7 linked regions of the Homo sapiens genome follow. The protein of the gene in region 1 interacts with the protein of each later gene in a pairwise test. Each region holds a gene or a part of one and is shown in the gene's direction. Other genes may lie near its edges.

What was found.
Region 2: the proteins of NINL (region 1) and SH3BP5L interact in a two-hybrid assay, tested with the Homo sapiens proteins (one large-scale study listed by BioGRID and IntAct).
Region 3: the proteins of NINL (region 1) and RIBC2 interact in a two-hybrid assay, tested with the Homo sapiens proteins (one large-scale study listed by BioGRID and IntAct).
Region 4: the proteins of NINL (region 1) and CC2D2A interact in a two-hybrid assay, tested with the Homo sapiens proteins (one large-scale study listed by BioGRID).
Region 5: the proteins of NINL (region 1) and LRSAM1 interact in a two-hybrid assay, tested with the Homo sapiens proteins (one large-scale study listed by BioGRID and IntAct).
Region 6: the proteins of NINL (region 1) and TNNT1 interact in a two-hybrid assay, tested with the Homo sapiens proteins (one large-scale study listed by BioGRID and IntAct).
Region 7: the proteins of NINL (region 1) and MCM10 interact in a two-hybrid assay, tested with the Homo sapiens proteins (one large-scale study listed by BioGRID and IntAct).

Annotation. Positions count from the first base shown.
Region 1 is NC_000020.11:25,575,532-25,579,031, reverse strand, and holds part of NINL (ninein-like protein), read left to right. Parts: intron 1-3,500. UniProt on the Homo sapiens protein: Involved in the microtubule organization in interphase cells. Overexpression induces the fragmentation of the Golgi, and causes lysosomes to disperse toward the cell periphery; it also interferes with mitotic spindle assembly.
Region 2 is NC_000001.11:248,815,916-248,819,415, reverse strand, and holds part of SH3BP5L (SH3 domain-binding protein 5-like), read left to right. Parts: intron 1-2,531; coding exon 2,532-2,594; intron 2,595-2,753; coding exon 2,754-2,882; intron 2,883-3,500. UniProt on the Homo sapiens protein: Functions as a guanine nucleotide exchange factor (GEF) for RAB11A.
Region 3 is NC_000022.11:45,423,693-45,427,192, forward strand, and holds part of RIBC2 (RIB43A-like with coiled-coils protein 2), read left to right. Parts: intron 1-2,255; coding exon 2,256-2,483; intron 2,484-3,500. UniProt on the Homo sapiens protein: Microtubule inner protein (MIP) part of the dynein-decorated doublet microtubules (DMTs) in cilia axoneme, which is required for motile cilia beating.
Region 4 is NC_000004.12:15,539,382-15,542,881, forward strand, and holds part of CC2D2A (coiled-coil and C2 domain-containing protein 2A), read left to right. Parts: intron 1-1,455; coding exon 1,456-1,633; intron 1,634-3,500. UniProt on the Homo sapiens protein: Component of the tectonic-like complex, a complex localized at the transition zone of primary cilia and acting as a barrier that prevents diffusion of transmembrane proteins between the cilia and plasma membranes.
Region 5 is NC_000009.12:127,496,510-127,500,009, forward strand, and holds part of LRSAM1 (E3 ubiquitin-protein ligase LRSAM1), read left to right. Parts: intron 1-743; coding exon 744-825; intron 826-3,500.
Region 6 is NC_000019.10:55,135,707-55,139,206, reverse strand, and holds part of TNNT1 (troponin T, slow skeletal muscle), read left to right. Parts: intron 1-1,132; coding exon 1,133-1,246; intron 1,247-1,994; coding exon 1,995-2,104; intron 2,105-3,500. UniProt on the Homo sapiens protein: Troponin T is the tropomyosin-binding subunit of troponin, the thin filament regulatory complex which confers calcium-sensitivity to striated muscle actomyosin ATPase activity.
Region 7 is NC_000010.11:13,196,058-13,199,557, forward strand, and holds part of MCM10 (protein MCM10 homolog), read left to right. Parts: intron 1-1,565; coding exon 1,566-1,710; intron 1,711-2,631; coding exon 2,632-2,750; intron 2,751-3,500. UniProt on the Homo sapiens protein: Acts as a replication initiation factor that brings together the MCM2-7 helicase and the DNA polymerase alpha/primase complex in order to initiate DNA replication. Additionally, plays a role in preventing DNA damage during replication.

The DNA of each region.
Region 1 (3,500 bases):
GCAGTATGAGGACTGTTAGCTCAAAGTCCCATTTTTATTTTATTTATTTATGTTTTAGAGACAGGGTTTCACTGTGTTGCCTGGCTTGACTTGAACTCCTGGGTTCAAGCATTCTCCCACCTCAGCCTCCCAAGTAGCTGGGACTACAGGCATGTGCATGACTCCATTTAATTTAATTTAATTTAATTTTGCTTGAGCTTTACTGCTTGATCAAATTCCTTTTTTTTTTTTTTTTTTTGGAGATGGAGTCTCGCTCTGTCACCCAGGCTAGAGTGGTAGTGGGCGATCTCCGCTCACTGCAAGCTCCACCTCCCAGGTTCACGCCATTCTCCTGCCTCAGCCTCCTGAGTAGCTGGGACTACATGCGCCCGCCACCATGCCCGGCTAATTTTTTCTATTTTTAGTAGAGACGGGGTTTCACCGTGTTAGCCAGGATGGTCTCGGTCTCCTGACCTCATGATCCACCTGCCTCAGCCTCCCAAAGTGCTGGGATTACAGGTATGAACCACTGCGCCCAGCTAATCAAATTCCATTTTTAAGCAAGAGTATTAAGGACTTAATGAATTGTGCTTTGCTTTTTGTGGCTTTGTGTGCGTGTGTGCGCCCATGGAAATAACATTTCAGGGCCGGGCGAGGTGGCTTATACCTGTAATCGCAGCACTTTGGGAGATTGAGGCGGGCAGATCACTTGAGGTCAGGAATTTGAGACCAGCCTGACCAACATGGTGAATCCCCGTCTCTACCAAAAATAGAAAAATTAGCCAGGTGTGGTGGGGCACACCTGTAATCCCAGCTACGCCAGAGGCTGACATGGAAGAATCGCTTGATCCTGGGAGGCGGAGGTTGCAGTGAGCCAAGATTGCGCTACTGCACTCCATGGGCGCCAGAGTGAGATTCCGTCTAAAAAAAAAAAAAATCACGCCTGTAATCCCAGCACTTTGGGAGGCCGAGGCAGGCAGATCACCTGAGGTTGAGAGTTCAAGACCAGCCTGACCAACGTGGAAAAACCCCATCTCTACTAAAAATACAAAATTAGCCAGGTGTGGTGGTACATGCCTGTAATCCCAGCTACTCCATAGGCTGAGGCAGGAGAATCTCTTGAACCTGCGAGGTGGAGATTGCAGTGAGCCGAGATCGCGCCATTGCATTCCAGCCTGGGCAACGAGAGTGAAACTCCATCTCAAAAAAAAAAAAAAGAAAAGAAAAGAAAATATTTCAGAAAAATGAGTCTGTTCCTGGGACTAGGACAGTAGTAAGCCCCGAGCTTCTGCTGGCCCCACACAAAGAGGGGTGGTGGGCTCCCCCGCCAGGATGGACCTCACAGGAGCTCTATTCACAAAGAGGACCTCCAGGTTCCCCTTAGAGTCATGGGTGGTGTCAGACCCTAAACATGAGAACCAGCATCAGTCAATATAGTGCAATATTCACTAACTTGGAGTTTTCGTTTCAAGGGCATAGGAATGTAGTAAACAGCTATTAATTATTTAAAAATCAACAGGGAGAGTCTGCTCGGTGCAGATTTTGAGTAGGTTGTCCCAACCCCAGGGAGAGCTCCTTGTATCTGGAAGGCCTCTGCCTGTCCTGTACTCAAGTGACCTGAGGAGGGATGTGCTGGACTGTCCGGCCACGTGGCCTTGGGACTTCCAGCCATGCTCGGGAGGAGGACAAAACCAGGCAGGCAGAAGTGGGTAGCGTGCCAGGTCTCCAACACAGGAGAGGCGGCAGGGCCTTGAACAGACTTGGGGACGCGTGTCTCCATGTGGACCAGTGAGTAAAACTGAGTACCCACGGTCCTGGGATGACCAGCAGGGACTCCAGAGGGCGGGCTGCAGCCCGGCCAGTTAGCTCCCTGCTTCAGGCAACGTTGTCACTGCTCTCCAAGGCCCCAAATGAAGGTAAGTGACAGGCTGAGATTTTCCCCAACTCTGGGTAGGGACAGAAACGTGGATGCCCAATTTCGGAACCCCACAATCTACATTAATGGCCTGTACTGATTTCTGGTACGGTTCCTCAGGAAACTGTGTCAAGCAGGATGTTTGCAGGGGCAGGTCTGAAGTGGACACAGTCCACAGCCTGCATAGTTCAAGACCAGCCAGGCCTTGCTCTGTGGCAAAAGTTTTAAACTGTACTTGATAGTGTACACTGTTGCACAGCTTTAAAGCGAAGCAATTCTTGATACATTTTAAATTCTTACTGAATTTTTATTATTTCCAACTGTGCACATAAAGTAAGACTCTTATCATTGTAGACTTTCACCACTTAAAATTCTCAGGCTGGCACGGTGGCACATGCATGTAATCCCAGAACTTTGGGAGGCTGAGGTGAGAGGATCTCTTGAGTTCAGGAGTTCGAGACCAACCTGGGCAATGTACTGAAACCCCATCTCTACCAAAAAAAAATGAAAAATTAGCTAGGCACAGTGGCATGTGCCTGTGGTTCAAGCTACTTGAGAAGCTGAGGTAGGAGGATCACTTGAGCACGGGAAGTGGAGGCTACAGTGAGTGGGGATGCACCACCGCACTCCAGCCTGGGTAACAGAGCAAGATCTTGTCTCAAAAAAGTAAAATAAAATAAAAATGAATAAACTTCTCATAATTCAAACTCACATAAAGGTGACTACCCTGCTGCAGTCACCATGCTAACCAAGCGATTGCAGTTACTGTCACCAGTTATGAGACATCTGTGCCCCCCATGAGATGTGCCAAGGACACACCTGACCCAGGTGTTCCTGCCACCCTTGAATCTAATTGTGCAGACACCAGACAGACTCTGGGACATTCTACATAACGCCCTGCCTGTGTCTACTCCAAAGACTTCAAAGTTCAGAAACAGAGACTGAGAAAATGGTCTGGTTTAAAGGGACAGGAAAACCGTGTACAGTGCTTGTCTCTGAATTGGAAACTGGACTGGGGTGAAAAAGATAGCTGTAAAGGACATTGTTGGCACCATGGACAGAATTTGATCTGAATGGTGGATTGTATAAATGTCAAATTTCCCTAGTTTGTTGTACTGTGACTGTCTCCTTGAGCTTAGTGAATACATTTTGAACTATTTAGGGATACAGGGGCACAAAGTCTGATACCCGATTTCAAATGGAGAAGGAGAGGAGCAGGGGTAGATAGATGATATGGAGGGAGGGAGGAAGTGAGGGAGAGAAAATGACAAAATGGTTGTGGTAAAGGGGAAAAGTGGAAACAGGTGGTGAAGCCAGCCGAGTGAGGGAGTATTGGAGAATTTTTTGTACTATTCTTACAAGTTTTTTTTTTTGTTGTTTTGTGTTTTTTTTGAGACTGAGTACTTGCTCTGTCGCCCAGGCTGGATGGCGCGATCTCGGCTCACTGCAACCTTTGCCTCCTGGGTTCCAACAATTCTCCTGCCTCAGCCTCCTGAGTAACTGGGATTACAGGCCCACGCCACCATGCCCAGCTAATTTTTTACTTTTTAGTAGAGACGGGGTTTCACCATGTTGGCCGAGCTGGTCTCGAATTCCTGACCTCATG
Region 2 (3,500 bases), on another chromosome or scaffold:
TTTTTTTTTTTTTTTTTAAGCTCATCAGCTGTAGTTAGTGTTAGTGTATTTTATGTGTGGCCCAGGACAGTTCTTCTTCCAGTGTGTCCCAGGGAAGCAAAAAGATTGGACATCCCTAGTTTAGAGCCAGATTTGTGGCCCTCCTTAGGCAGGGTCTACACTGTTGTAGGTAGGTGTGTGCATTTTCATATCCTCATTCCTCGTTCCATTACAGGTTTCTACCTTTGTGTTCTTCCTGTTACTGTAATTAACATGTCAAACCATTTCCTGTATTCTTACCTGCTGACCCAGATCTTTTCAGGATCAAGGCAGGGGATGGGGGGAGGATAGAAGAGGTAGAAGGGACTAAAAGGAAGATTGTGCATGTCAGCCTGACTCCCTCACTGGGTTGCTGAAAGGCCCGAATGAGGTGAGTGGGGGCCAACATCACGGCCATATGAGTGGGAAGTGATTGTGGTGTCACTGCCAAGTGCAAGTCATGGGTCTGGGCAGCAGGCACATGCTGGGCTGGGTCTCTCTGGCCTGTCCAGCCTCCTGTCCAGAGACAGCAGGGGCTGGTGAAGGCAAATCCTATAGCTAGGCACCAGGTATTTCCTGGCACAAGGCCCTTGGCACAGACCAGCACTGCTCCTCAGTAGTGTCCTTAGCTCACCAGGGGCTCTGGGAACTTTTGTGTTTTCTCGGGCAAGGGAGGATGACTTGAGGCCAGTACCCCTCTCAGCTCTCTTCCATTTCATGGAAAGCCCTGGATGGTTCTATTGCTTCTCTCTCCAGTCCTTCCAGGGGCCAGGAAGGCACTCAAACCAGCTTGTCCAGCAACTTTTCCCCAGGACTCTCCCTCCCTCCCACAGGATCTGCTCTATAGGGACCTGCGGTCATGGTCACCCATTGCCCAAGCAGGCCAAAAGGCTTCTTGGACTCTATACACTTTCCTGATCTTGACCTTAGTCATCCACCAAGCCCCTGTGATTCTGTGTCCTGCGTTGCCTTGGGATCTGCCCTCTCCTCTGCCACCTGGAATACTATAGACAGCCTCCACCTTTTTTTTTTTGTTTGTTTTTTGTTTTTGTGATGGAGTCTCACTGTGTCGCCTAGGCTGGAGTGCAGTGGCACGATCTGGGCTTACTGCAATCCCTGCCCCCCGGGTTCAAGCCATTTTCGTGCCTCGGCCTCCCAAGTAGCTGGGATTATAGATGTGTGCCACCACGCCCAGCTAATTTTTGTGTTTTTGCTAGAGACAGGGCTTCACCATGTTGGCCAGGCCGGTCTTGAACTCCTGGCCTCAAGTGATCTGCCCACCTCTGCCTCCCAAAGTGCTGGGATTACAGGTGTGAGCCACCATGCCTGTCCCAGCCTCCACTTTTGTCTCCCTGGCTCCCCCAGGCTTTCGTTACATTGGCACCAGGCTCTGAGAGACCCTTTTGCCATTGCAGAAAGTCCTGGTACTACCTCCCATAGTGCTGTAGCCTTACTGACCTTCTCACCTGCCAACTTGTCTGCCCAGGGTACCTGCTCCCCTTTGGTTCCTTGGCCCTTTGTTCTTCACTGGCACTTTATTTTTTTGAGACAGAGTCTCGCTATGTTGCCCAGGCTGGAGTGCAGTAGTGTGATCTTGGCTCACTGCAGCCTCTGCCTCCCAGGTTCAAGTGATTCTCCTGCCTCAGCCTCCCAAGTAGCTGGGACTATAGGTGCACGCTGCCACACCCGGCTAATTTTTGTATTTCTAGTAGAGACAGGGTTTCACCATGTTGCCCAGGCTGGTCTCAAACTCCTGACCTCAGGTGATCTGCCTGCCTCGGCCTCCCAAAGTGCTGGGATTACAGGCGTGAGCCACCTTGCCTAGTCATTCACTGGCACTTTTGTGTCTATGAAGTCCTTCCAGCTGCTGAGCAAGTGTTCCAGGCATCCTACCCTGACCTTCTGCTGCCCAATTAGGTGACCTTGCTACCCAGAGAGCACCCACACCCACCCCTCACAAGGCTGCACATACTGCCCAGGACCTGCTGCTGACTTGCTGGGTTTCCTTACAGGCTGCCACCTCTATGTCCTGAATTCTCAGGTCTCACGGTCCTGAGAGGTGATAAGTGTGCAGTAAACATGTGCTGACTGAGTGGCCCTGCCCTGGCCCAGGTGGCCATCCTCTCGCAGAGAGCGAGCCTTCAGGTCCAAGGAGACTCCCTCAGTTTGAGGAAGTGTTGCAATCTCACGGAGAGAGTGAGGGCTCACCACAACTTCACGTTGTGCATATTAGTGTTGCATTCTCCAAACCTCAATTTCTTCATCCTTGAAACTGGGGTTTTACTACCCAATACAAGGTAGAGTTGTGAGGATTACGTGAGATTGTATGTATCAGGTCCCTGATAGACAAGAAAGCTTTTGGCAATCTCCGTATCTTCTTTCCTTTCCTGAGTGTCTCACCTCATTTCCCTGGGCAAGTGGGGCTCTCTCTCTCTGTGTTGCTCCTGCCTTGCATGGTTCATTCAAGGCTACTTCCTTCCACTGCACTAATTTGCCACCCCTCTCTGTGGCAGGAGGAGTTGGAGCACCTGAACCAGGCCAGCGAGGAGATCAACCAGGTGGAACTACAGCTGGATGTGAGTGTCCTTTTCCTTATGTGCTTGGGCTGGTCCTTGGAAGTATCTCCATCTGTCTCTTTCCCAGATTGAGGCAGTGGCGGTGGGAGGGGTGTGTCTGAGAAACAAGAGGGGCTGGGACCCAAACATGTGCCTTTCCTCTGCCTTGTTCCTTTCCAGGAGGCCAGGACCACCTATCGGAGGATCCTACAGGAGTCGGCGAGGAAACTGAATACACAGGGTTCCCACTTGGGGAGCTGCATCGAGAAAGCCCGGCCCTACTATGAGGCTCGGCGGCTGGCTAAGGAGGTATGGCTGGCTGACCACGTTTGAGGAAGGCTACGTGCTGAGCCTGGCCCTGGATTCTTCTGTCTCTATATGGAGTGAGAGACAAAACACCAGACCCTGAGGGCAGAGCCCTGGGCTAGACCTGGCTGGTCGGAACCAGCTCTGTGGGCTCAGGAGGTTCCTTTACCACGTGGGCTCTGGGCTTATGGTCTATAAAATGGTGAGGGTGGCTGTGGGAGAATATTTAGTTCAGCCCTGCTAATGTTTAAGTGCCTTCTGTGTATCAGGAATCAGGCTTTAGGGTATATCAGATATGTCAGTTCTAACATCCTGTTGTTTTCATCTGCGCCCATTTCCTCTTCCCTTTGGTTCATGTCTCTCTTCTGAATCTTTTCTTTGCTTACTCCTCACTCTTTTCCCCATCCCACACCCCTTTTTTCTGTAACAAATTACTTTTAACAAATAATATGTGTTCACCATTGGAAAAACATAATAAAACAAGAAGGAAACAAAAATCACCCAAAATCCTACCATGCACGTTTCATGCATTTTGTTTCCTGGGATTTGTTGTCATCCTGTATGGTGAGGTGACAGATACAGACAACTGCCTTGGAAGAAGAGTTTGTTCCCGAGAGGAGG
Region 3 (3,500 bases), on another chromosome or scaffold:
CCAACTGCGGGGGCTGGGGAGGACCAAAAGGCAAAGCAAGACACCTGAAGTCCGAGCTCACCACCCAGTGAGCTGCAAAGGTCTTAGAGATCATCCATCCCTGCCCTTCATTTTACAGAGGGCGACCAAAGAGGGGAGGCTGTTTGCTCCAGTCCCCACTGCAAGTGAATGGCAGGATGTGGGGCCCTTGACAATTAGTCCACTGTTGGCTGGTGATCTGCTCATTCATTTATGGAAGCGATGGTGATGATGATGATGATAATTCACTCATTCATTCATCAATTCAACCAATGTTTATTGAGCCCTTCCTGCTGGGCATTGGAGTGGCTTTTGCTAAACCCTATTGTCTCATTCATCAATTTATTCATTCATATATTCTAGAAGATGTTTAATGGGCATCCACAGCCTGCCTGGTTTTCTCAGACCCCCGGCTCCTCACGTGGATGCCACGAGGCAGCACCATTGCAAACACTCCTGCACTGGGAAAAGCCGCCCTCTGGCTTCTGCAGCTCTGCTACTAACTACAACTAGGCTTTTTAATTAACCTGGGATGTTAATCCAAAGCCCAAGCAGGCCGGTCCAGTTCAACAGGAAGGACACACGTGAGGGCCTCCAGTTCTTGGGTCGGGGCTCATTTCGTCAGAGAGGCATTGTGGCATCAGGGTGTGGCACGCAGGCTCTGGAGCCCGACCACACGGGGTGCAGACCAGGCTCTGCCCTGCAGCCTTGGGCAGGCCACCCACTGCGTCCATTTGATCATCTGCAGAATGAGGAAGCGACAACACCCTCCTGTGTCGGTCAGAATGTGCTAACCCTTGCTGGGATAAGAAGCAGCAGTCTCAGTGGCTTAAACAGAAAGTTGATGTTCCATGCATGCTCCCTGCCCGCCATGGACAGGCTGTGAGGCCTGTTCCTTGGCATCCTCACTTTGGAGCCCAGGTCCTGGGATGGAGCGACCGCCAGCCAGAGGATCCCTGCAGGAGGAGGGAAGGAATGTGGCTAGTCCCCGCAGGCTTCCTCCCAGGAGCAGTACTGCCACCTCTGCTCACATTTCTTTTTTCTTTTTTTTTTTTTTTTTTGAGGTGGAGTCTTGTTCTCTTGCCCAGCCTGGAGTGTGTAGTGGCGCGATCTTGGCTCACTACAAGCTCTGCCTCCCGGGTTCACACCATTCTCCTGCCTCAGCCTCCCAAGTAGCTGGGATTACAGGCCTCTACCACCACGCCCAGCTAATTTTTCTATTTTTAGTAAAGATGGGGTTTCACCATGTTGGCCAGGCTGGTCTTGAACTCCTGACCTTGTGATTTGCCCACTTTGGCCTCCCAAAGTAAGAACAGTGTTGAATCACTTGAACCTGGGAGGCAGAGGTTGCAGTGAGCCGAGATTGTGCCACTGCACTCCAGCCTGGGTGACAGAGCGAGACTCCGTCTCAAAAAAACAAACAAACAAACAAACAAAAAAAAACGGGTGTAGGGGCTTGGAAGGATGAGCTGACTTCCTTAGGGAGTACTCAGTGGCAAGTCCGGTATTGAAGTTGGGCCTGTCTAACTACAAAGCTTGTACTGTGTGACTCAATCAAGCTGGCCTCTGGTGAGCACATGTGGGAGGCCGGCTCCTTGCAAACTGCCCTGTCCATGTGTTACTGAGGACAACTGTAAACCCAAGTACATGTCTCCTAAGCCATCTCCTGACTTTACAGAGAAATGACTGCAGCCCAGAGAGGGGAGGTGACTTGGTATAGGCCACATAGCCAGGGAACCCCCAGGGAATCAAACAGAAATGAGACCTGGAATTACTTTGTACTGGGGGCTGCAGCTCAGGACCACTGAAGTGACAGTGCATTTTCTACCACTGTTGTCAATCACTCTGTTGAGCGTTCTTTGCAGCCCACAGATGTCCAAGGGTTGCCAGGGGCATAGAGCCCTGCCTTGGGTGGGACCAGGCCCACGCGGGGTGTCGGCCTAATCCAAGGAGGGAGTTCCCTGCCTTGGTAAGTTGGTGCAAGACCCGGAGCTCTTATGCATACACCCAACAGGTGGTGATCCCCCGAGTCCAGCCCACCCGCCCAGCAGTGCGCAGGCAGCCAGGGGTTCAAGGACCCACCCACATCCGTGCCTGACAAGTCTCCCCTCCACCCGACTCCTGCTGCCCTTAGCATATCCTCCCCTCGAGGGCCCCCAGTGAGATTTGCTGGCCTGGGTGTCAGAATGCCCCTGGGGTCACTCGGACCATCTTCTTTAATGTCTTCACCTGCTTAGGCCATCGAGTCAGTGGAAAGGAAAAAGCAAGAGAAAAAGCAAGAACAAGAGGACAACTTGGCCGAGATCACCAACCTCCTGCGTGGGGACCTGCTCTCCGAGAACCCGCAGCAGGCAGCCAGCTCCTTCGGGCCCCACCGCGTGGTCCCTGACCGCTGGAAGGGCATGACCCAGGAGCAGCTGGAGCAGATCCGCCTAGTCCAGAAGCAGCAAATCCAGGAGAAGCTGGTGACTGCCCCGCCCCTTTTTCCAGAGCCCATAGAGCCAGGCTCTTTGCTCCCACTGCCTTCCAGGCACAAATGTAGTTGTAGCAGGCCTTGTGCTCTGCCCTAGCACCTGCCCTCAAGGAGTTTCCCTTCTAGTCGGTGGGAGACAAGAGCCAGATAGTGTCACACCCGTATGATGTGGCATTAGGAGTAGGAGTGCCAAGATAGAGGACAGTAGAATGGGAAGACATTGAAGCAAAGACCCAAAAGAGGGTAGGGAGGGAGCCATGTGTCTACCTGGGAAAAGGGCGACCGGGCAGGGTGAGCTGCAAGGGCAAAGGCCTTGAGGCAGGACCCTGCCAGACCTGCTCAGAGAAGGGCGTGGAGCCTGGTGACTAGAGTGGAGTGAGGAGAGGGGCAGGTACGGAGGCCTCAGAGGCAGACGGTCGAGGTCCTGGCAGTCCACTGGGGAGGACTTTGGCTTCTTCTGTGACGGAGACGGGGAACTCTGCAGGGTTTTGGACAGAGAAGTGACAGGATCTGACTTAGGTTGAACAGGATCCCCAGCGTGATCCCCCTGGATTGAGGGCAGACACTAGGGGCTGAGGGGGAAGGAAGGAGATCTCCAGGAAGGCCTTTGCAGTGTTCACAGCGAGAGGTGATGCTGGCTGGGACCACGGGGCAGGCAGTGGGGGTGCTGAGCAATGGTCAGATTCTGGATCTGTTTTGAAGGTAGAGTCGACAGGATTGGATGCATGATTGGGTGGGGACGTGTGAAAGAGAGGAGTTAAAGGCGACTCTAGGTCCTGTGGCCTGAGCAACTAGAGGGATGGAATTGGCATTTCCAGAGATGGGGAAGGTGGTGGGAGGAGCAGGTTGGTGGGTGGGGAGGGGTGGAAATCAGAGTTACAATTTTGGATACGTCAAGTGTGCAAAGTCCATTAGATATCTGTATCTATTAGGATTACATTTGCCTGAATGTGGCAGAAAACCACACATAACAGCATCTTAAACAAAATAGAACTTTCTCTCTTGCAAG
Region 4 (3,500 bases), on another chromosome or scaffold:
ACAGGGACTGTTGTACACTGGAATCTTCAATATCCCAACGTGAAAAATGAGAATTCAAATAAAGTCAGTCAGCCTCCGAGTTCATTAAAACGTGGGAGTTAATTAGGATGTCATTATAAGACTTCTCACAGTCTTGGTTTCAAACTTCTGCTAATGTTCTAATGATTGATTTATTCTAATGATTGATTTATTTTAAAATTATAGCTTTTTGTGCATTTTCATGTGTTCCCTCAACTTCACATATTAAGATATTATACATAAACTATTCCCCTGCACTAAGTAAGCAATTTTCAAGGCACAAGTACCATACCCTATAATTTTAATTTTGACATGAATGTTCAAAATATGTGATGACACAGCATGCTTTCTAAAAGGAAAATTTGGGCTTGATTTGGTAATCTTTTATGAGTGGAGTCTAAGTCTTCAGTGTCTTGGATACTTCTTGCAAATTTGCTGTGAAGTGTCCTTTATTAAAAAAATGCTGAAGTAATTTGAGCTATTTCATCTAGAATAAGTCTAAATTATAGACATGTAAAAAGTTAAAACTACCACCCCCTTTAATTACTAGAGAATTTCTGTTTGGAATGATGAAGAAGCTCTGAAGGTGGATAGTGGTGATGGTTAGACAACATAGTAATTGTATGTAATGCCACTGAATCATACACTTAAAAATGGTTAAAGTGATAAACATTACGTTATGTTATATATATTTTCCACAATGGAACAATTTTTAATAAACTACCACCCCTCCCCCAAAAAAAACCTAAGCTTGTTTCAAATTTTGATGCCCTAACCTTTTCCTTTCCTCAATTAGCTTGAATTGCTATTGACTTAACCAATAACTGGCATTTTTTGGTGGATGTCTATACACATATGTACAATAAAATTAAAGACCAATGGGAGGTTGTTTTTTTTTTTAACTTTCTGATTCAAATTATCTTTAAAAATAAGGAATATTTATTAATACTCTGCATCCATTGAACATTCACTTACTGTCTGAAAATGTTGAGAAAAACTTGGTATCTTGGAAAAATGAACTCGATCTAACTGCTACAATATGCTGCTGTATTTTTAGAATAAAACTTCTTACTCAAATATAAATCATTATTATCCCCTTTGTCTTGAATTTATTCCATTTAACAAGGAATATGTGAATTTAAAACTTTGGGACACAAATGTAAAGCTTGCCTGAAAAACCTGAGGAGACTGTAGCACAACAATGAATGGACTCTAGTTCTTAAATCCTCTGTGCCCTTTTCAGTGTCTGTTAATGGCTTCTCCATAAATTCCATACTACTCTGCAAGACCTGTGGCTCCTCTGGTTAAATGAGGGCTGACATGATTGGGAGAGTTGCCTGCAGTGTGTCTTGTTCTGTTCAGTTCTTATTTATCATATATTTTGGTGATCTTAGTAAATTATTACTAACTCCACCTGTGAATGGTCTCCTTTTGCAGAGCGGAGGTCTCGAGAAGGGAGGATGTAAAGAAGCGCTCAGTGTACTTAAAAGTGCTGTTCAACAACAAGGAGGTGTCCAGGACAGTCAGTCGGCCACTAGGAGCAGACTTCCGAGTTCACTTTGGGCAGATTTTCAATTTGCAAATAGTCAACTGGCCGGAGAGTTTAACACTTCAGGTACACATTTTAATTATAGTTACTGGCCGGGCACTGTGGCTCATGCCTGTACTTTGGGAGGCCAAGGTGGGCAGATCACTTAAGGCCAGGAGTTCGAGACCAGCCTGGCCAACATGGCAAAACCACATCTCTACTGTAAATACAAAAAAAAAAAATTAGCCAAGTGTGCTGGCGGGTGCCTGTAATCCCAGCTACTCGGGAGGCTGAGGCAGGAGAATCTCTTGAACCCAGGAGGTGGAGGTTGCATTGAGCTGAGATCATGCCACTGTACTCCAGCCTAGGCGACAGAGTGTGACTCTGTCTCAAAACAATAGTAATAATAATTATTATTATTATTATAGTTACTGCCCCAATAATTTTTTGTTCATTACAGCTTTGAGATGATTTTAAATCATCCATTGGTTATAAATATGTCTCGATAGAGTCTCAAGCCTCTTCCTTGGCACATCTGTTCTTAAAGTCTTGGAAGAAAGAGATCTGTTCCCCAACTCACCTACTGAAAATGCTGGCAGAATAACTCTGGCCACAGTGCTCTGGAGTGTCTGCCTTGAGATGGGAGAGGGGTGCTGAAGGGGGTGGGGCACAGGGAGATCTCCAGCTCATTCATTGAAGACATATTTCAACATCACCCTCTACAAGGACTCTAGTGTAATATAACAGAGAAATCAATTATGCCGCAATCATGGGAGGTTATGATGTGGGAAAGATACAGGTGCTAGGATCCCCCAAAAATTAATAAATCTCCTCACTAGCCTAAATCCCACCATTAGCAATATATTTATTTGAGTCTATTTTAGTTTCCTGGGGAAACTAAACTATAACAAGGAACCACTAACTTGGTGGCTTCAAAACAACAGAAATGTGTTTACTCACAGTTCTGGAGGCCTAAAGTCTGAAATCAAGGCGTCAGTAGGGCCATACTCCCTCCAAAAGCTCTAGAGGAGTATCTTTCCCTGCCTCTTCCAGCTCCTCCTGGCACTTAGAGTTCCTTGGTTTGTGTTAGCGTAACTCTAATCTCTGCTTCCATCTTCACATAGCCTTCTCTGTGTCTCTCTCTGTGGGTCCTCTTTTGTCGCTTATAAGAACACTCTTATTGGATTTAGGGCCCACCCTAATCTAATATGATCTTATCTTCATCCTTAACTAATGATATCTGCAAAGACCCCATTTCCAAATTAGGTCGCATTCTGAGTTTCTGGGCGGACATCAATATGTGGAGGATGCTATTTAACCCATTACAGTGTCTTCAGTCTTGCTTGTTCTTTCGGTGACTCTTCTCCCACAATGCTAACAGGTCTCTCTTATGATCCTAACAGGCTTGTTAACTAGGATTGCAGCTTTGTGGCATGCATGCCCTTGTTTCCCCACCACCACCCAGGCAGAAATCACAGATCCTCATCCATCACTTAGGCAGAAATTTCTCACTCCCCTCCACCACCCTTGCCAGAAAGCAATAATTGATGGTGCTATTTTTGTTGTGTTTTCCCACTGAGCCTGAATATAATTTTAGAACTCTTCTCAATACAGTACTTCAGGTAGCCACTACCTATTCCTAGTGAGTATGACTGACAAAGTCTGCAGGTACCATCATGGCTGTATAATTAATAAAATATTTACATACTCTGTACTGACTGATAAATAGCTGCTGCCCTGACCTTCCCAGATGCCATCCTGGCCACATAAGCCCCACTTCAAGGACCCCCTGGACCTTACCACAATTGACCAATTAAAGGGGGTGGCTGACCAAGGCCAGCGCCTCCAGGGTCCTGTTCCCAAGCTGTGGTGGGCAGCTCTTCTAATGAACCCAGGAGGTGGGTTCAATACTGTGTATTGTTCAGCATTTTGAATATCAAGCCCCGCCTAGATC
Region 5 (3,500 bases), on another chromosome or scaffold:
GAATACTCATCGCTGTGCCAGCTAACTTTGTAGCACCTGCACGTGCGGGGCACCATTTTAAGCACTTTTTGTATTCGAACTCACTGAATTCTCCCGACAGCCCAGCAGGGTACATATCATTATCATCATCTTTCAGTTGAGACCCAGTAAGGCAATAACTTGGCCCAAGGTCACACAGCAGAGTGAGGTCTCCACCCCAAGCAGTGTGGCCCCAGAGTTCGTGTTCTTTTTCATGAGACTCTCCTGCCCCTCCCTGGACAGATGCAGACACCAGGGTCCAAGAGGACTGGATGGCACTGAGGGTCACAAGGCCATGCCGCTCAGGCTCTGGAGGCTGAGGGACTGTGGGGCTCGTGTGCTGCTGCTGCTTAGTGGCTTGGCCTCCAAGGCTTCTCTCCTCCCCCACCTGGTGGGGAAGTGGCTGAGGTGTGCAGGTGAAGCCTGGCACCGGGAAGCAGTTGCTAAACCATAGCTGTTGCTAGTGCTGGTTTCCCTTTGGGCCTCAGTTTCCCCCCAACCCCTGCCACACTGATTGTTGGGCTGAGGCCTGGGGAGGTTGCCCTCACAGCTATGGTGCCGCACTGCCTCATCCTGACCGTGGGCCCCGCCAGGCCCCGGAAGGCTTCCACATTTCCAGCAGGAGGTGTCGACGGTCCTGTGAGCCTGGGCCTGTGCCACGTGGCTCACACCATTTAGCGGGCTCCCGCCCAGGCCACAGTCTGCACTTCCTTGAACTGTCACAGGTGGGCGTCTCAGAAGCTGGCCTGCAGCACGAGATCCTCCGGAGAGTCCAGGAACTGCTGGATGCAGCCAGGATCCAGCCAGGTACAAGCACAGCTCCAGCCTCTTCCAGGCAGGGCTCCAGCCGTATGTGTGGGCTCTGGTGGGGACAGTCATTTGCTTACATTTCAGGATGACTCCTGAGGGCTGGTTCTAGCCTCTGCTGGTCGGTAAGGTTTCCTCCCAAGGAGCAGGCTTAGGGATCAGTGAGCCCATTTTACAGATGGGAAAAATGGGCCACCAAATTGGGAGAACAGGAGACCTCCACGTAGCAGTGGAGGGGCCCTCCCAGCTCCCTGTCCCATAGCCTTCCCTCAGTCCACCCTACAGACGCTGGGATCCACACACTGAGGGACTTTGGACTAGAGGGAGAAATAGCCCGTCCCCAGGGCCTGCAGTATACCCAATGCTGGGCCTGAGGCATGCCTGTGGACATGGAGAGATGTCCACAACAGGCTGTGAAGGGGCAAAGGCAGGTCGTGAGGCCCGTGGGGAGAAGGGGCAGGTGTGGAGTCTGGGGTCTGCCATGTGCTGAGCATGATCTGGGAGCCCGGCACCTGCCCACCGCTGTGCATGAACCACGTTGAGGAACCTCCGGATCCATCCCGTGAGGAGGCACTGTTGTGGTCCTCATTTTCAAGATGGGGAAACTGAAGCGCAAAGAGGTTAGCATGTCCCCCATCAGGTCCCATTGCTGGCAGATGGTGGAGCCACTGGGCTTGCCTGCCTCCCTGGGGAAGAGGTGAGGGGCCAGAGCAGGGGTGAAGGAGAGGGCAGTCTTGTGCTGCTGGGCTGGGCGAGGCTCTGGACAGGGCATTTTTAGCCAGAGCCAAGGAAGAAGCGGAGGAGCTGAGGCGAAGGTGGAGTTCTGGACTGGACCTCAGTGGGGAGGCCCCGGGGCTCCAGGGGGCTGGGCTGACTGCAGCCCCAGGATAGCTTCAGGCACCAGTTTTGCAGCTACTTTTACTCCAGGGACACTGACTCAACCCCCAAAAAGTCATTAAACTTCTTAGCTTTTTGATATCAAGTCATGTGCAGAATAGGCCCCTTCTGGATGTTCCTGACCCCCCAGCTCTCAGACTGGAGATCAGAAGAGTTTTCCATCAGGAGTTGGGGTCACCCCCGGCAGACAAGCCTCACGTGAGCAGGAGCCACAAACAAACAGGTGCCCTTCACCCTGAGTGGGGTGCAGTGCCTCTGAGCCCAGCAGTCCTCAGGACCGGCTGCTTCTCACTGTTTGAGTCATCCCTGGAGCAAACAAGCAGGTTCTTCCTCTCCATAGCAGATTGGCCATGAGGATCTGTGGCCACATGCAGAAAACGGATGCCTGGGCTGCTCAGGGCTTCCTGCTTGTGCCCATTGGCAGGGGAAGGGGCCATGGTGGGATCCGTCCTCAGTTCCAGAAGGCAAGGGAAACCCTCAATTTCCTAGCAATTCTCTTATTACTCCCAGAAATCGGTATACTTTATATCAAATATAGAGGCTGGGGCCAGGTGTGGTGGCTCACACCTGTAATCCCAGCACTTTGGGAGGCTGAGGTGGGCGGATCACCTGAGGTCAGGAGTTCGAGACCAGCCTGGCCAACATGGTGAAACCCTGTCTCTACTAAAAATACAAAAATTAGCCAGGCGTGGTGGCGTGCACCTGTAGTCCCAGACTCAGGAGGCTGAGGCAGCAGAATTGCTTGAACCCAGGAGGCGGAAGTTACAGTGAGCCAAGATCATGCCATTGCATTCCAGCCTGGGTGACAAGTGAAACTCTGTCTCAAAAAAAAAAAAGAAAAAGAAAAAAACAAATATAGAAGCTGGGTGCAGTGGCTCATGGCTGTAATCCCACACTTTGGGAGGCCTACGTGGGAGGATCACTCAAGCCCAGGAGTTTGAGACCAGCCTGGGCGACATAGGGAGACCCCTTCTCTACAAAAAATAAAATAAAATTAGCTGGGTGTGGTGGTGCACACCTTAGTTCCAGCTACTCGGGGGGCAAAGGTGGGAGGATCGCTTGAGCTTGGGAGGTCGAGGCTGCAGTGAGCCATGATTGTGCCCCTGCACTCCAGCCTGGAAAAGAGTGGGACTGTCTCAAAAACAAAACAAAAAAATTAAAAAAAATTAGCAAGGCGTCATCCCAGCTACTCTGGAGGCTGAGGTAGGAGGATTGCTTGAGCCTGGGAGGTTGAGGCTGCAGTGAGCTGTGATCATGATACTATACTCCAGCCTGGGTGACAGAGCAAGACCCTGTCTAAAAAAAAATATATATATATATATATATGAATGCCCCCTCGAAATGGTGGTTTGGGGGGAAGCACTGATAGCCTTAGAGGGTCTAGTGTTGTAACAGCCTTTAAAAAATCTTTAGTTGTGGCCGGGTGCGGTGCCTCACGCCTGTAATCCCAGCACTTTGGGAAGCCGAGGCGGGCAGATCACGAGGTCAGGAGATGGAGACCATCCTGGCTAACATGGTGAAACCCTGTCTCTACTAAAATTAGCTGGGCACAGTGGCGTGTGCCTATAGTCCCAGATACGCAAGAGGAGAGGCTGAGGCAGGAGAATCACTTGAATCCAGGAGGCGGAGGTTGCAGTGAGCCGAGATCGCACCACACTGCACTCCAGCCTGGCAAGAGTGAGACTCCATCTCAAAAAAAAAAAGAAAAACTTTAGTTTTTCCTGTTATAAAAAATAATGCTTGTAATTCAAGCCGTAGAATAAAGTGAACCGTGATCA
Region 6 (3,500 bases), on another chromosome or scaffold:
CCAACATGGTGAAACCCTGTTTGTACTAAAAATACAAAAATTAGCTGGTAATGGTGGCACATGTCTGTAATCCCAGTTACTTGGGAGGCCGAGGCAGGAGAATCACTTGAACCCAGGAGGTGGGGGTTGCAGTGAACAGAGCAGAGATTGCACCACTGCACTCCAGCCTGAGTGACAGAGCGAGACTCCATCTCAAAAACAGAAAGGAAACTAATTCAGGTACGGAGTGCTGGGTGTACAAAAAGCCTCATGTCCACCATAAGGAGACGGGGCTCAGCCTGGACAAACCACTGTTTCTGGAACATTCAATGAAGAGTTTCTCGAATGTCGTAATGCCTTCGCTCAATATTCCAGAACCCCTTCCTCAGGCTCAAGGCCATCAGCCTCTTTAATCTCCCCAGTCCCTGGTCTTATCACCAGTTACTTCCCTTGACCCCCTCAAAACAGACATTCTCATATCCTGAGACTAAGGGCGACTGTGGCCCAGACAGGCTGAGCATCTGGAGTGAGGTCGTACAGCAGAGTTCACTATCGGCTATTTCAGGGTGGAGACATGCAGAAAAAGCAGGCATTTCTTCTTCTCCTTCATTTCGATTTTTTCTGGGAGGATATTAAGACCCAGAGAAGGGGGCCAGGTGCGGTGGCTCACGCCTGTAATCCCAGCACTCCGGGAGGCCGAGGCAGGCGGATCACTTGAGGTCAGTAGTTTGAGACCAGCCTGGCCAACATGGTGAAACCGCGTCTCCACTAAAAATACAAAAATTAGTTGGGCGCGGTGGCGGGTGCCTGTAATCCCAGCTACTCAGGAGGCTGAGGCTGGAGAATTGCTTAAACCCGGGAGGCGGAGGTTGCAGTGAGCCAAGATCGCACCACTGCACTCCAGCCTGAGCAACAGAGCGAGAGTCCGTCTCAAAAAAAAAAAAAAACAGAGGGGAAGGGACTTGTAGGTGGTCACACGGGGAGACGTGGCAGGGCCGGGAGTGGGTACCCCTGCGTTTCTGCTGGTTCTGATGTCCCAGCAGCCTCTGCGGCACTGGGTCTGCTGATCCCTGTGCCCCAGTTCCACATCCCAGGGCCCTCCTCCCTCAGTCCTACAGGGGAGTCCATGAGGTTAACCCCTTACTTCCCACAGGAGGAGAAGATGAGGAAGGAAGAGGAAGAGGCCAAGAAGCGGGCAGAGGATGATGCCAAGAAAAAGAAGGTGCTGTCCAACATGGGGGCCCATTTTGGCGGCTACCTGGTCAAGGTGAGTCAGCCTGCAGGAGCCTGAGGTCTGAGTTCTGAGGGGGCAGGGGCTGGGGGCCAGACCTCTGGTTCCTAACGGAGGAGGGGCTGAGGCCTGGATTCCTGGGTCTGAGGGAGGAGGGGCTGGGCCCTGAACTCCTGGGTCTGAGGGAGGAGGAGCTGGGGTCTGGACGCCTGGGTCTGAGGGAGGAGGGGCTGGGGTCCTGGACTCCTGGGCTGAGGGAGGAGGGGCTGAGGGCCTGGACGCCTGGGTCTGAGGGAGGAGGGGCTGGGGGCCAGACTTCTGGTTCCTAATGCGAGAGGGTCTGGGGCTTGGACTCAGTCTGAGAGGAGGGGCTGGGGGCCTGGACTCCTGGGTCTGAGGGAGGAGGGGCTGGGGGCCTGCACTCCTGGGTCTGAGGGAGGAGGGGCTCGGGGCCTGCAATCCTGGGTCTGAGGGAGGAGGGGCTGGGGTCTGGACTCCTGGGCTGAGGGAGGAGGGGCTGGGGGCCAGACTTCTGGTTCCTAATGCGAGAGGGTCTGGGGCTTGGACTCAGTCTAAGAGAAGGGACTGGGGGTCTGGACTCCTCCTGAATCTGAGGGAGGAGGGAGTGGGGCTGGACTCCTAGGTCTGAAGGAGATGGGCCTGGGGTGCAGACCTGTGGTCCCAACATGGAAATGGTCTGTGGGATCCGACGTGTGGGTCCCGACACGGCAGTGCTCTGTGGGATGTGGCCCCCAGTTTACTGTTCCGCCTCCCCCACCCTCAGGCAGAACAGAAGCGTGGTAAGCGGCAGACGGGGCGGGAGATGAAGGTGCGCATCCTCTCCGAGCGTAAGAAGCCTCTGGACATTGACTACATGGGGGAGGAACAGCTCCGGTAGGTGCTGTGGGGGGCTCGGGGTGTAGGGGCCTGGGTGTGAGACAGGGGGATAAAGGAGCTCACACCCAGATCTGGGTGGGCAGATACTCCGGGTCTCAGCTCCAGTGCTATGTGACTTTGGGCAAGTGGCTTCCCCTCTCTGGGCCTCTGCTGCCTTCTTTGTGAAACATGTCACTGAACCCACTTTTCGTGGCTGCCGTGGCCTGTAGCATCTGACAGGTGTTACCAAGGAAGCCAGACAAGATGACTTCCCTCCCCCAAGTTTAGGAGATTTTGTTAACTCCGTGATGTGCCTTGGAGCTCAGGATGGGCTGTGCCTTTTACCTAAATTCAAGCCAGGAATGCGGGTGAGAATTTTCCAGCTGAGTCCCTCGCATCTATAGCCAAGACAGCCTGCCTCTCATGATAAGCTACAGGACGGCAGGCTGGTGGGGGCTTGCCTTCAGGAGCCCGCCTGTTTCTCCATGTTCTCTGGCCTGGGCTGTGGCTCAGAAACTTCAACCACCCCAGAGTGGCGCCGTGATCGGGTTTGCCGCTTGCACCGAAAGCCCCTGCCCAGGGCTCAGTGCCAGCTTTGCCGGCTACTTTGTGATCTTGCGCACGTTATCTGACTTCTCTGGGGCTCCCATTCCTCATTGGCAGAACAAGGATATAATCACAAAATTGACCTCACAGAGCTGTGAAAGGGCAGTGAGATAGTAATAATAATTACAGGCTGGGCCCGGTGGCTCATGCCTGTAATTCCAGCACTTTGGGAGGCTAAGATGGGAGGATTGCTTGAGGCCAGGAGTTGGAGACCAGCCTGGGCAATGTAGTGAGACCCCATCCTTAAAAAAATAATAATTACAGCAGCAGCTTCCTGTGGAGGGTTTACAACCCTGTGAGGTAGATACTATTATTATCCTTGTGTTAATAGTGAGGAACCTGAGGCACAGAGAGGTTAAGTAACCCTTCCAGGGTTGCACAGCTAGCAAGTGGAAGAGCTGGGATTTGAACCCGGCAGTCTGGTGCAATAGTCCGTACTCTTTGCTAGTGTGCTGTAAAGTGGCTTCATGGTAAATGTTTAACAGCTGCTCTCCAGGGGGCAAAATGTCTAGATTTAGCACATGCCCATTCCCAGGGCGTAAATACTTCCACCTTGCTCCTTTCAAACTACCCGTGTGGGGACACTGAGTGTGGAGACGGGAAAGGATGTGCACAGCAGGCTCCTGGAAGCCCTCTGGGGGGCGCTGTGGGCCCTCCTTCCTGTGCACATGGTTCATGTAAAGTATTGTTGGCCGGGCGGGCGCGGCGGCTCACACCTGTAATCCCAGCACTTTGGGAGGCTGAGGCGGGCAGATCACCTGAGGTCAGGAGACCAGCCTGACCAATATGATGAAATCCCATCTCTACT
Region 7 (3,500 bases), on another chromosome or scaffold:
CACCACGCCTTGGCTAATTTTTGTATTTTTTGTAGAGATGGGGGCCTCCCTTTGCTGCCCAAGCTGGTCTTGCACTCCTGGACTCAAGCAGTCCCACCTCAGCCTCCCAAAGTGCTGGGACTACAGGCATGAGCCACTGTGCCTAACCAAGAATCCTTTAAAAGAAATCTTACACAAAAGTCCAGTCCCATGACAGGTGAAAGCTGAGTTGCTGCGGCTGAAGTAGGGGTAGGGCACCCAGAGCCCCACCTGCCCACTTCCTGAGTGCCCCAATCGAGCCTCTCTCTTCCCTTAAGTTAGCAGCTGCAGCCAAATGAAGGGCAAAGCTTGCTGTATGCCAAAACCTTACCTATAATAATAACAACAGGAATACCTACAATAACCATGGCACATGTCCATATTACTCAGTACTTGTGATATGTGTGTGCCATGTATTTACTATGTTTATTTATTTATTTATATATATATTTTTTGAGATGGAGTCTCGCTCTGTCACCCAGGCTGGAATACAGTAGTCCGATCTCGCCTCACTGCATCCTCTGCCTCCTGGGTTCAATCAATTCTCTTGCCTCAGCCTCCCGAATTGCTGGGATTACAGGTGCCCACCACCATGCCTGACTAATTTTTGTATTTTTAGAAGAGACAGGGTTTCACCATGTTGGCCAGGCTGGTTTCGAACTCCTGACCTCAAGTGATCCACCTGCCTCAGCCTCCCAAAGTGCTGGGATTACAGGCATGAGCCACTGCGCCCGGCCAGGAATGTATTTGCTATGTAAAGATTCATACTTTGCAGATATTATCTTATTTCATCCATACAACCATGACCTTCAAAGGTAGGTCAATGCTATATCATCATTTCCTTCTCTTTTTTTGTGTGTTTGTTTTGAGACAGGGTCTCACTCTGTCTCCCAGGCTGGTGTACAGTGGTGCAATCACAGCTCACTGAAACCTCCATCTCCCTGGGCTCAGGTGATCCTCCCATCTCAGTCCCCTGAGTAGCTGGGACTACAGGCATGCACTACCATGCCCAGCTAATTTTGTACCATGCCCAGATGAAGTCTCACTGTGTTGCTCAGGCTGGTTTTAAACTCCCGAGCTCAAGAAATCCACCTGCTTCAGCCTCCCAAAGTGCTGGGTTTACAATGAGCTACCATGCCAAGCCCCATTTCCATTTTATACTTGAAAAATTAAGTAATTTTCCTTGGGTTACAAGCTAGTCCGTGGCAGAGCTGGCTGGAACTTTATCTTAATTCTCTCTGATTCTAAAACTTCCAAAATGGTGATGTGGCTCCTTTATGGATCTGGAAGCCTGCAGTCTTGCTGATGTCAAACTTGTTATATTTAAATAAACTAAGATTTTATTCATCAACATATAGACCTGTCTCCCATGCTATTATATTCTAGTAATTGTGTTAATAATACTAAGTAAAATTAAGATATGTTCTGCCAATTTCTGTCAGAGAACAGCCAGAATTCACTGGTTACTAATAAAAAAGGGATCCAGGTCTATAAGTGCCTCTGTCATCTTTTAGATCTTTACCTCCCTCTCATTCCCTTTTTTCTAGTTAGCTGCTATCACCAAATTAAGGGCAAAAGGCCAGGTTCTTACAAAAACAAACCCAAACAGCATTAAGAAGAAACAAAAGGACCCTCAGGACATCCTGGAGGTGAAGGAACGTGTAGAAAAAAACACCATGTTTTCTTCTCAAGGTACTGCAGTTTCACAGTTAACAGTGGGAAAGAGAAACTGTTTCTAAGGGAAATATGTTCTAAACCCAAACCAGCACCCAGATATCAAGCAATTACTTCCATTTCCTCCTATATAGAATACCTAAATAGAATTTCTATGGGTGGAACTGATTTTTTTTTTTTTTTTCATGGAGTCTTGCTCTGTTGCCAGGCTAGAGTGCAGTGGCGCAGTCTTGGCTCGCTACAGCCTCTGCCTCCTGGGTTCAAGCGATCCTCCTGCCTCAGCCTCACGAGTAAGTGGGACTACAAGCGCGCGCCACCACGCCCAGCTAATTTTTTGTATTTTTAGTATAGATGGGGTTTCACCATGTTGGCCAGGATGGCCTCGATCTCTTGACCTCATGATCCGCCCGCCTTGACCTCCCAAAGTGCTGGGATTACAGACGTGAGCTGGAACTGATTTTTTTATAATTACATTAAATTGGAATGAAATTGGGCACAATTTGAATACTTGGGAATAGGATTGCTCATTGGATCTTTGTACATATATATATTAGCATAAAGATTTACTTTGACAGAACTAGAATTCCTTTGTTTTAAATTGCCATATCTTTATTTTTAAAACTCTGAAGTTGGCAATATCATTTTAACATAATTGTCAACATTATTTACACTGTTGTTATCTGTTACTATCGTCAGCTGCCTATTTGAAGGTGAAAAAGAGATTCTATTTAGTGGTAAAATCTGCCACCACCCCACATTCTAGGCTCAGCTTCTTGGCTCACCTCTGAGAGCTTTTCCCTGCTGGGACCAGCGGGGGTAGGTCAAGTTTGAAGGGCTGGTAGGCAGAGGAGGAGGGAGTGGGAGGGAGTAGAGTTGATGAGGCGCACTGGCTTTCTGAAATTTCTTGGTCGCTGCTAATGTTTGTTCCTTGTGCCCTAGCTGAGGATGAATTGGAGCCTGCCAGGAAAAAAAGGAGAGAACAACTTGCCTATCTGGAATCTGAGGAATTTCAGAAAATCCTAAAAGCAAAATCAAAACACACAGGCATCCTGAAAGAGGTAAGAGCCCAAAAGCTCAAGGATGGTGTTGATGTCCGATGTCCTTCAAAGCCAAGGTGCTAGCTGTAGGACCAAGAATGTGTTGTTTGTTTTATTTTGTTTTTCTGAGACAGAGTCTCAGTCTGTGGCCCAGGCTGAAGTGCAGTGGCGCCATCTCGGCTCAATGCAAGCTCCGCCTCCCAGGTTCAAGCGATTCTCCTGCCTCAGCCTCCCAAGTAGCTGGGATTACAGGTGCCTGCCACCACACGAAGCAAATTTTTGTGTTTTTAGTAGGGACAGAGTTTCACCGTGTTGGCCAGGCTGATCTCTAACTCCTGACCTCAAGTGATCCTCCAGCCTTGGCCTCCCAAAGTGCTGGGATTACAGGCGTGAGCCACCATGCCCGTACCCAGCCAAGAATCTGTTTTTTACATAAATCTAAAAGTAGGTATATGTCAGTTTGTTTGAGTTTGCTTTGAAGAACAGGAGAATTTCTAATAAATTTTAGCTTTGTCCTTGTCTCTTTACTGAAGAATATCATTTGATTTAACATGACTTAAATAGATATCAATATTATAAAAATGTTTGCATTTGGTTATGGCTGTGAAATTATGTTTAAATGGCTCTACACTGCTGCTATTTTCTGCCTTGCAATATGCAAAAAGAGTTTTCCCATTCCAGTATTTTTATATTGGCATTTCAAATGCTCTAAATCAGTAGTTAACCCCATCACACCCAAGGACCCTTTTTAATAACAAGTATTTTGTATTG